2 separate regions of the Homo sapiens genome follow, and region 2 is linked to region 1. Evidence: fine-mapped expression QTL. A gene starts in region 1. The other region holds a variant in brackets. All regions are shown on one strand. Distances are between the middles of the regions. Region 1 holds the start of TRAPPC6A (trafficking protein particle complex subunit 6A). Region 2 holds the start of ZNF296 (zinc finger protein 296).

Evidence for each region. PIP is the estimated chance that this variant, and not a neighbour inherited with it, causes the effect.
Region 2: its variant is fine-mapped to the expression of TRAPPC6A in whole blood (TOPMed, PIP above 0.99).

Annotation. Positions count from the first base shown.
Region 1 is chr19:45,175,164-45,180,527 of GRCh38, reverse strand. It overlaps TRAPPC6A (trafficking protein particle complex subunit 6A), which reads left to right and starts at 2,291. Exons shown (of 6, transcript NM_001270891.2): 1 at 2,291-2,393. The coding sequence starts at 2,310. It overlaps BLOC1S3 (biogenesis of lysosomal organelles complex 1 subunit 3), which reads right to left and starts at 1,744. Exons shown (of 2, transcript NM_212550.5): 1 at 1,697-1,744; 2 at 1-1,240. The coding sequence starts at 1,231. The coding sequence ends at 623. RefSeq lists enhancers at 1-31, 457-957, 1,498-1,817, 1,888-1,957, 1,970-2,913 and silencers at 838-1,147, 2,318-2,537.
Region 2 is chr19:45,072,378-45,077,741 of GRCh38, reverse strand. ZNF296 (zinc finger protein 296) reads left to right here and starts at 1,264. Exons shown (of 3, transcript NM_145288.3): 1 at 1,264-1,666; 2 at 1,880-2,029; 3 at 5,162-5,364. The coding sequence starts at 1,369. It also overlaps a transcript of GEMIN7 not described here. RefSeq lists silencers at 1,068-1,477, 1,568-1,807, 2,138-2,447. The variant T/A (reference allele first, on the strand shown) is at 2,661.

The DNA of each region.
Region 1 (5,364 bases):
CCAGCACTTTGGGACGCCACAGTGGGAGGATTGCTTGAGCCCGGGAGTTTGAGACAAGCCTGGGCAACATAGTGAGACCTTCTCCCCTCTTCAAACCGACAGAAAAAAATTAACCGGGCAGCTGGACGTGGTGGTGCAGGTCTGCAGTCCCAGCTACTCTTGAAGGCTGAGCTGGGAGGATCACTTGAGCCCAGGAGGTCGAGGTTGCAGTGAGCAGTAATCCCGCCACTGCACTCTAGCCTGGGTGACAGATAAACACCCTGTCTCCAAAAAAAAAAAAAAAAAAAAAAAATTGGTGAGCCCCCAGGGTGGAAACAGATTAAGGAGCAACTATGTAACAAAGGCTGGAGCCAAGCCCCAGGGGAAGGCTCAGAACCAGGCGGCAGGGTCAGGATCGGGAGAGGAACCAGATCTAAGGATAGTGGGGCCCTGGTCTCCGCAGTAGGGGTTGAACTATATCCAATATAAAGCATTATCCAAGGGGACCGGATTAGCCCCCATGGGTGACACCAAGATGGGAGCGGGGGTGGGGGGTGATAAGAGACACAGGAGACAGAGTCAGGTCCCAGAGGCAGCAAGGCCTACCCCCAAATTGCAGTCAGGTTGGGAAGTAGAATCATGGCTAGGCCCGCGGCCCCGGGTCTTTCTCAGGCTCGGTCCCTGGCACGCCGCGGATGTCCGGCAGCAGGCGGCAGCCAGCCACGATGTCCAGACGCTCGGCCAGCGCACAAAGGTCCCCGCGCGCCAGGCGCACGCTGTGGGCCGCCGCCAGCCCCGCCGCCTGGGCTGCCGCCAGCCTACTAGCCAGGGCGGCCACGTCGCGGCCTGCACGGCGGTAGACACCGCTCACGGCGGCCGCCACGTCGTGGTCCAGCCGCGCCTGGCTCTCCGCCAGCCGAAGTTGCAGGAGCGAGCGCGCGGGGGCGGGCGCCGGGGCCTCCTCCGTGCCCCAGGCCTCCTCCGCCGATTCCCGCTGCACCACGAGTGGAGGCAGGTCCCTCGGCGCGGCCGTCGGTTCCGGCTCCGGCTCCGGCTCCGAGTCGGTCTCCGCGGCTTCCCCAGCCACCCGCAGCCCCGTGGGGCGGCCGCGCGTCGGGCCCGAAGGACCCAGGTACAGCTCCTCCTCCTCCGACGAGGACGCAGAGCGCTCGGAATCCGTCTCGGTCGCCTCCCCCGGCACCACCGTCTCCGGCCTCCGCAGGGGCCTCCGCCGACGACCCTGGGACGCCATGGCACCGAACTAGGGGAGAAGAGCGAAGGGACTGCACGTGAGACCGGCGCCGCGGTGGGTAAAAGGCGCAGGTCCTGGATTCCCAGCCCCTTCGCTGATTCTCTTAACGACTTGGTGTCAGCTGCTCCCCGTCTGGGCCTCAGTTTCCTCTTCTGTAAACTGGGTGATGATGGGGGTTACTGGACCCCAGGCTCTTCAGCGTACAGATGGGGAAACTGAAGACCAGCTCGAACAAGGATCTGGGGCCCGAGTTCCCGGAGTCCCAAGCCGAGGTCTTTACGAATTTGCCTCCTAGTAGAGGCCACACCCTCCACCTGGTCCACCATGCCAATCTCAGACCCGGAAGCACACGGGCCCGTGAGCTGCTCGGGACCAGCGCCAGAGTCGCAGAAAGGATGACAGTCCGACTGGACTCTGCTGGGGGCACTCATGGGATGGGAGAAGCGCTAACGCCAAAGACCGTACCCGGCAGCTGACGCTCGGAGCTTGCGAGATCCGCTTCCTAACCCGAGTGCTGCGTTCTCACCGTGGCAGCTGAAGGGCTGTGATTTCAACCAATAGGGGAGCGGGTTGGGCGGGCATTAGCGGCCAAGTCACGTGGATTCGCCCGGCTACCAATCAGGAAGCAAGTTCTCAGCATCAGCTTTGAGTGAGCGTGCAGAAGAGTCACATGAATGGAGGAACCGCCAATAGAGAAACAGCTGGGCCGGCTCTTCCAGGTTGTGCGACGAGGAAAGTCTGGAGTGGACCAATAGGGATTTTAAAAGCCGAGTATGTCACGTGTAACCAGTAATTTGGCCAATAGGAATGCTCGAGAACCCGGAAATAGGGAAGGGACGGCAGTAAGAGCAGAAGATGTTGCCACATGTGGCCAGAGAAGGCGTAGGCCCGCCCCCTAGTGTCCCAGGCTCACGCGCACACCACCTGAGTCCGGGGCGGGGAGGCGGGGCTAGTCTAAAACACCAATGGAAGCCGGAGTAGGAGGGCTCGCGCCATGACGCAAGAGGCGTGGCTTACCAAGCCTGGCCAATGAGAGCTGGAAGCGCTGGGCGCATCTTTAGGCGTGCGAGGAGGGGGCATGGCGGATACTGTGTTGTTTGAGTTTCTTCACACGGAGATGGTGGCTGAGCTGTGGGCTCACGACCCCGACCCCGGCCCGGGGGTGAGCGCCGGGCTCCGTGGGGAGGAAGCGGGGGCCACCAAGGTAACGCCTCTGGGAGAGCGGAGGGCGCGTCAGGCGTCCGGGTTCGAACCCGGCCCAGCCCCGGCCTTGCAGGGCAACGTCTGGCCCTGGCTTCCTCCTTTGGAAAGTGGCGTTCGCGACGGTGCCGGCTCGGGGTTATTGCTAAATTGAGCGCGATGATTCAGGGTAAAGCACTTAGCTCAAGGCCTGAGTAAGCGGCTAGTAATCATAATAATGCTGTTATTGGGCGTGTGCTGAGGACTCGCCTCCCCCACTTACTAGGTGTGCGACCCAATGACTTAATCTTTGTGTGTCCTAGTTTTCTCTTTTGTAAAATGAGTATCATAACGTACCTAAGCCTCAGCGTGGGACATTTATTTATTCGACACCCACTTATTGAGCGTCTGTTGTATTCCAGGCACCGTTCTAAGACAGAATCCCTTCCTTGTGAAGCTTACATTTCACTAGGGGAGTCAAATAATAAAATGAAATATGCCGGCTGGGCGCTGTAGCTCCCAGCACTTTGGGAGGCCGAGGCCGTCGGATCACCTGAGGTCAGGAGTTCAAGACCAGCCTGGCCATGGTGAAACCCCGTGTCTACAAAAATTAGCCGAGCATGATGGCGGGTACCTGTAATCCCAGCTACTCGGGAGGCTGAGACAGGAGAATGGCTTGAACCTGGGAGGCGGAGGTTGCAGTGAGCCAAGATTGTGCCATTGCACTCCAGCCTAGGCGACAGAGCGAGACTTGTCTCAGGAAAAAAAAAAAAGAGATAATGGGGTTTTGCCATGTTGCCTAGGCTGGTCTTGAACCCCTAGGCTCAAGTGATTCTCCCGCCTGGGCCTCCCAAAGTGCTAGGATTACAGGCGTGAACTACCGTGACTGGCCCGGGACTGTGTGTGTGTGTGTGTGTGTGTGTGTGCGCGCACGCGCATCCTGCTCGGTCGCCCAGGCTGGCTGGAGTGCAGTGATGCAGTCATGGCTCACTGCTGCCTCGACCTCCTGGGCTCAAGCGATCATCCCACTTCTCAGCCTCCCAAGTAGCTGGGACCACAAGCGCTGCTGGCGCCACCACACCTGGCTAATTTTTTGTATTATTATTATTTTTTTTAGTAGAGACGGGTTTTCACTGTTAGCCAGGATGGTCTCCATCTTCTGACCTCGTGATCTGCCCATCTTGGCCTCCCAAAGTGCTAGGATTACAGGCGTGAGCCACTGCACCCGGCCAATTTTTTTTTTTTTTTAGTAGATACGGGGTTTCACCATTTTGGCCAGGCTGGTGTCGAACTCCTGACCTTGTGATCCACCCGCCTCGGCCTCCCAAAGTGCTGGGATTACAGGCGTGAGCCACCGCACCTGGCCATGTAAGACATTTTTATTGGCTCTGGTTTCCTTCCAGGGTTAGAAGCCCCAGGGAGGATGTTGCTTGTTACCATCTCGATATACAGATACAAACCTGTCATAAGTTTAAAACATCATAAATCAAAAATGCATTTAGCCAGATGTGGCGACTTGCACCTGTAATCCCAGGTACTCAGGAAGCAGAGGTGGGAGGATCACTTGAGGCCCACCGTTCAAGACTAGCCTGGGCAACATAGCAAGACCTCACCTCTAAAAGAAATTTTTATTTTTATTTATTTATTTATTTTTGAGACAGAGTCTTGCTCTGTCGCCCAGGCTGGAGTGCAGTGGCGCAATCTTGGCTCACTGCAAGCTCCGCCTCCTGGGTTCACGCAATTCTCCCGCCGCAGCCTCCTGAGTAGTTGGGACTACAGGTGCCTGCCACCACACCCGGCTAATTTTGTTTTTTTTTTTTGTATTTTTAGTAGAGATGGGGTTTCACCATGTTAGCCAGGATGGTTTTGATCTGACCTCGTGATCTGCCCGCCTCGGGCTTCCAAAGTGCTGGGATTACAGGTGTGAGCCACTGTGCCTGGCCAAGAAATTTTTAAAATTAGCTGGGCGTGATGACACATGCCTATACTACCAAGAACTCGGGAGGCTGAGGTGGGAGGATTGCCTGGGCCCAGGAGTTCAAGGCTGCAGTGAGCTATGATCATGCCACTGCACTCCAGCCTGGGTGATAGAGTGAGACCCTGTCTCTAAAAAAACATGGGGATTACTCAGTGAACCATCAAAAATTTTTGGACTCTTGGAGCTTTGTCATCATTGGAGGAGACAGACAAGTAAATGAGTAAAGTGTCTGGTACATTGTGTAACTGCTATGAGGAAGATACAGCATGGCCCAGGGAGTATGCATCAGCCTGGGGGTGGGTAATAATGTCCCAACACTCCATATCCTTCCTGGCTTTCAAACGAGAAACCCTGGAGTCCCAACACCTGCCTTGTCTCCCTCACCTGCAGCCCTCCCCCAGGCTCTGCCCAGTCAGTCTAAATACCTTTCTCACGTGGCCCCTCCTCTGCCCTGGTCCAGTGCTTTCCGCTCTCCTGTGAAATGAGCCTGCTCCCTTCTCCCAGCCCATTCCACCTGTCACATCTTCACCATGCTAACAACTATTAATCCTTCAGATCTTAGCGTAACAATCCCTTCCTCAGGGATGCCTTCCCTGAGCCCCCAGTCAAATTTGGATCTCCTTTATACATTCTCCTGGTCTCCCTCTCGCACTTTTTTCTTGGTAGGCTTCATCATACTCAATAAGGATGTATTTGATTTTTTTTTTTTTTTTGAGACGGAGTCTCGCTCTGTCGCCCAGGCTGGAGTGCAGTGGCGCGATCTCGGCTCACTGCAAGCTCCGCCTCCCGGGTTCATGCCATTCTCCTGCCTCAGCCTCCCGAGTAGCTGGAACCACAGGTGCCCGACACCACACCCGGCTAATTTTTTTTTTTTTTTTTGAGACAGAGTCTCGGTCTGTCCCCCAGGCTGGAGTGCAGTGGCGCGATCTGGGCTCACTGCAAGCTCTGCCTCCCGGGTTCACGCCATTCTTCTGCC
Region 2 (5,364 bases), 100 kb after region 1:
AGGTCATGGAGTGTAATTTGCAAGGCCTTCAGCAGGGTGGGGCTACTTTAGATACTGTTGGTCAGGGCCCTCTGCTCTCAGGAGGACAATGGAACCCAGACCTGAATAACAATGTGCAGAACTCCAAGAGATCAGCATCTGAAATCAGCATCTGGGCTGAGGACAGCTGGGGGAGGACAGGTTCTTGCCCTGACCTCAGGGGGCTTGCATTGGGTGGGGGAGAGGACAGTCCACAAGCCGTTCTATACTGTCGTGCAGTCGGTGCCAGGAAGAAAAGAATACTCATCAGGGATTGAGGGTGGGGCAGGGTGTCGATGCCACTTCAAACAGTGAGCAGACAGAACTGCTTAGGGGAGGGAAGTTCAAGGAGGCGGAGTGGAGGCAGGTGAGCTGCTTGGCTATTTGGTTTTAATGGCGACTTCTGGTCTAGGAACAGAGTCGATGTGTATGATTACAGTCCTCCTCTGCTCAAAACCCTCCTAAGGCTCCGGTCTCAGGAAAACCAAAAGACCTTAAAGCGATCAAAAGATTGCTTGGATCTGCCCCCATATTTTCACTGAACTCAATCCCCAACCCGTATTGCCTCTCCCTTTCCTTGTAATTCCTCAATGCCCAGGCCCACTGGCTGGGCTTCCTTCCCTCCAGCCTCAGCTCCACCATGCCCTTTCCCATCATAGGGGAGAAAATTGAATCCCTCAACCCCAGTAACCCTCTCCGCCTTTCCAGCTTTCTTTTGCTCCATGGCACTGGTCATCATGAAGGGCCATCTATATTTTACGTAATTATGTTTATAGTGTCTTCCCCCACCGTCTGAACTCCGTGCAAACAAAGATTATCTTCTGTTTATTCCCTCCTGTATTCTCAGGGCTTCAAACAGAGCCTGGCGCACAGGAGGCACTCAGTGAATGCTTGCAAAATGAATTTTTATTGTAATGCATTTAATGAAATAGCCCAGATTACTATCAGGCACCTAATAAGAAACGTGACCGACTATTTTTCTCGCTTGGGGGTGCGTGTGGGCATGCCGTGTCTCAGTTTCACCCGCCCTAAAACGGGATCAGGGATAGCTGTTTCAATGCCTTGTGGGAACTCGGTGTGATTAAATTTGGTCACTAAGCCAAACGCACGGGACACTGCCTAGATTGAGTTAGGCCGCCGTCAGGGCCCCAGCAGGGCGGCTCGGTCCCCTCCCATGAGCCCCGCCCTGGTAGGCGGAGCCACGGGCCCGGCCAGCACGTGTAAGAGTTCGCGGCGGGTCGCCGCAGTCACTCACCTGAGCGCGCACGGTCCGCGCGTCCTCCGCTCGTGCGTCCTCCGCCCGCCCGCCTGCCTGCCTGCCCGCCCGCTCGCTCGCCCGGCCCGCGACTCATGTCCCGCCGCAAGGCCGGCAGCGCGCCCCGCCGAGTAGAGCCCGCGCCCGCCGCCAACCCAGACGACGAGATGGAAATGCAGGACCTCGTCATCGAACTCAAGCCCGAGCCAGACGCGCAGCCCCAACAGGCCCCAAGGCTGGGGCCCTTCTCCCCGAAGGAGGTGTCCTCGGCGGGGCGGTTCGGCGGCGAACCCCACCACTCCCCTGGCCCCATGCCCGCCGGGGCCGCCCTCCTCGCCCTCGGCCCGCGGAACCCGTGGACCCTGTGGACGCCGTTGACCCCGAACTATCCCGGTGAGCACCCCGGGCCCTGGGCCCAGCCTCCCTTACCTTTGACCCTCGGGTGGGACCCTTCCCTTTGGGCATGGGCCCCTCGCCCTGCCTTATCTCCTTCGCCCCGTCCTGCCCCTCAGGCCCCCTTCTGACCTTCGGTTTCCCCTCTCCTTCAGCACCCTCAGCCCCCATCCTGGCCCCACCCCACGCTCACCACCCGCTTCCTCCCTGCAGACCGCCAGCCCTGGACCGACAAACACCCAGATCTGTTGACCTGCGGCCGCTGCCTGCAGACCTTCCCGTTGGAGGCCATCACTGCCTTCATGGACCACAAGAAGCTGGGCTGTCAGCTCTTCAGAGGCCCCAGCCGCGGCCAGGGCTCAGGTGAGTAAAGCCGGGTGCAGTCCCCCTCTCAAGTTCGAGGGCTGGGCTTCCTGCTGGAAAGGGGCTGGGCTGGACGGCAGGGCACTGAGCACTACTTCCCCTTTCTCGCTCCCCATCGGGTGCAGCCTAGGCGTGGCCAGGGCCTGCCCGTCCTAGGGCAGGGACCAGTGGTGGCGGTGGAGGGGGGGCGGGGGGGGACTGGGCAGGGAAGGAGGGCCGCCTACAGGGTGTGGCCAGCCCCAGAAGACTAGCCCGGGATTTTGCCCCCCCCAACACACACCCCAACCTGGTTTCACTTCTCCTTCCCCTTGGCCAGAAATAACTGGCCAGGTGGCTGGACCAGGGTGGCAGTAGGAGGGGACCTCTAGGGAGGGCAGCGGCCGGGGGGAGGGGGAGTGGAGGCCAGCTGGAATGGGGAGGTTGCCACCCCCTCCTGTCTCTCTCTGTCAATTCTGATTGAGGTGCTAGTACAGCTGAGTGTTCAGAGCCAAGGAAGGGGCTTCTGGCTTCCCTCGGTGATGGAATCTCCCAGCCCCGCGTGCTGGGAATCCCCTGGTTTGAGCGAGCTCCCGGGTGCTGGACACCCGGGTTCCTTCTCTTGGGAGGGAATTAAAAGCCTTCACATGGGGCT[T/A]GACCCTCGGTGAGCTTTTGGTCAGTGTTGGCTGCAGGGCTTAATCCAAACCTAGTTTCCAGCCCCCTGGCCCTTGCCCTTCTGAGACTTTTGAGAAGTGGAATTATTTAGGGTTGGGCCAGGGAGGGTCTGGTGGTGGGAAAGAGGAGGGGCTTGTGACTGATTGAATCAGCTTTAGAGCTGGAGCATGGAGAGTGGCCTGGAGGAGCGAGCGAGGGGCTGTGATGGAATCGCTGGAACAAAACACTACAGGGCTTGGAGAATCATGGGCACCTTGGTTTCACAGGCTCTGCTGTTTGAGCGCTTATGTGGACCAAAGCTCTCAACCATTCCCCAAGCGAGGTCACAACCACCCTTGAAAGGGAGGGGATCTCTAGGGTCCCTGAATTCTAGCAACTGAGGCACACAGAGGACTATGTCTTGCCCAAGGTCACACAATTAGGGAGCAGAGAAGTCTGAATTTGAATGCAGGCCTGTGCTCTTGACCCAGGACTGGTTGTATCACAAAGGTTGTCCCATCCAAGACTCTAGAATTTGAAAAATGGAAAGGCTAGTTCACCTAGGAAGTGTCCACTGAGAGTACCCCGAAGGTCCAGATAGAAATCCAAATTCAGGTTTGGGGGCTCAATTTGAGATCCATGCAGAGGGTGGGGGACCCAGGTCACTACCACCTCTTTACTAGGTGGCCGCTAAGCTTTCTCTGTAGCTACCCCATTATTTTGAGGTGGAGTCTTACTCTGTCACCCAGGCTGGAGTGCTGTGGTGCAATCTCAGCTCACTGCAACCTCCGCCTCCCAGGTTCAAGTGATTCTCCTGCCTCAGCCCTCCAAGTAGCTGGGACTACAGGCGTGCACCACCATGGCCAGCTAATTTTTGTATTTTTGGTAGAGACAGGGTTTCACCATGTTGACCAGGCTGGTGTCTCAAACTCCTGACCTCAGGTGGTCCACCTGCCTTGGCCTCCTGAAGTGCTGGGATTACAGGCATGAGCCACCATGCCCAGATATCTCAATTACTTTAAAAATTATTTTTATTAAACCAAAAAAAATTTTTTTTTTTGAAACAGAGTCTCGCTTTTGTCACCCAGGCTGGAGTGCAGTGGTGGGATCTCGGCTCACTGCAACCTCCGCCTCCTGGGTTCAAGCGATTCTCCTGCCTTAACCTCCCAAGTGGCCGGGATTACAGGCGCGCACCACCACACCCGGCTATTTTTTATTTTTACTAGAGACAGGGTTTCATCATGTTGGCCAGGCTGGTCTCAAATCCCTGACCTCAAGAGATCAACCCGCCTCAGCCTCCCAAAGTGCTGGGATGACAGGTGTGAGCCACCGTGCCCGGCCTAAACCAAAAATCTTATTCAAAAGCCTCTGCTCCCAGCCAGGTATGGTGGCTCACGCCTATAATCCCAGCACTTTGAGGGGCTGAGGCGGAAGGATTACTTGAGGCCATTAAGTTAAAGAATAGCCTGGGCGGCCGGGTGCGGTGGCTCAAACCTGTAATCCCAGCACTTTGGGAGGCTGAGGCGGGCAGATCATGAGGTCAGGAGATCGCGACCATCCTGGCTAACACGGTGAAACCCTGTGGCGTGGTGGCTGAGGCAGGAGAATGGCGTGAACCCCGGAGGCAGAGCTTGCAGTGAGCCGAGATCGCGCCACTGCACTGCAGCCTGGGCGACAGAGCAAGGCTCCGTCTCAAAAAAAAAAAAAAATAGCCTGGGCAACATAGCAGGACCCCATCTCTTTAAAAAATACTAAATTAAAAATTTAAAGCAAAAAAAAAAAAGCAAGCAAGCCTCTGTTCTGCCCTCTCCCCCTCCCCCAGTAGTCTGGATTGAAATCCCAGCTTCACCCCTTCCAAGCTGTGCAACCCTGGGGAAATGCCTCTCTGTGCCTCAGTTCTCCTGTCTGGAAAATGGAGATCTTATTTTCCTGTCCTGAGGGAAAGCCGGGCTATGAGCCATGGCTCAGCACCTAGCATGTAGGAAGCGCTTACTGAGTTAACATAACTTTTTAAAAGATTTTCAAACACATGGCCCAGCACAGTGGCTCATGCCTATAATCCCAGCACTTTGGGAGGCCGAGGTGGGTGGATCACTTGAGGCCAAGAGTTCGAGACCAGCCTGGCCAACACGGTGAAACCCCCATCTCTACTAATTAGCCAGGCATGGTGGCGGGCGCCTGTAATCCCAGCTACTCTAGAGGCTGAGGCATGAGAATAGCTTGAATCCAGGAGGTGGAGGTTGCAGTGAGCTGAGATCGTGCCACTGCACCCCAGCCTGGGCGACAGTGAGACTGTCTAAAAAAAAATGTTTTCAGGTACTTAGCACCCACTCCACAGATTTTTCGTGTCCACCCCTCCTCTGAGCGTCAGCTTCCTGGTCCTTCCAGGGTGTGTGTGTCTTGTTACTGCCAAGTCCTTTGCCCCTGCAGGAGTGCCTATCCCACAGAAGGTGTCCAGCTGGCAGCTGTCCGCACTAACACTCTGCCTCTTTTTCTTACCAGAACGAGAGGAGCTGAAGGCCTTGAGCTGCCTGCGCTGTGGCAAACAGTTCACAGTGGCCTGGAAGCTGCTGCGTCACGCCCAGTGGGACCACGGACTGTCCATCTACCAGACAGAATCAGAGGCCCCGGAGGCCCCGCTCCTGGGCCTGGCCGAGGTGGCTGCAGCCGTGTCGGCAGTGGTGGGGCCAGCAGCTGAGGCCAAG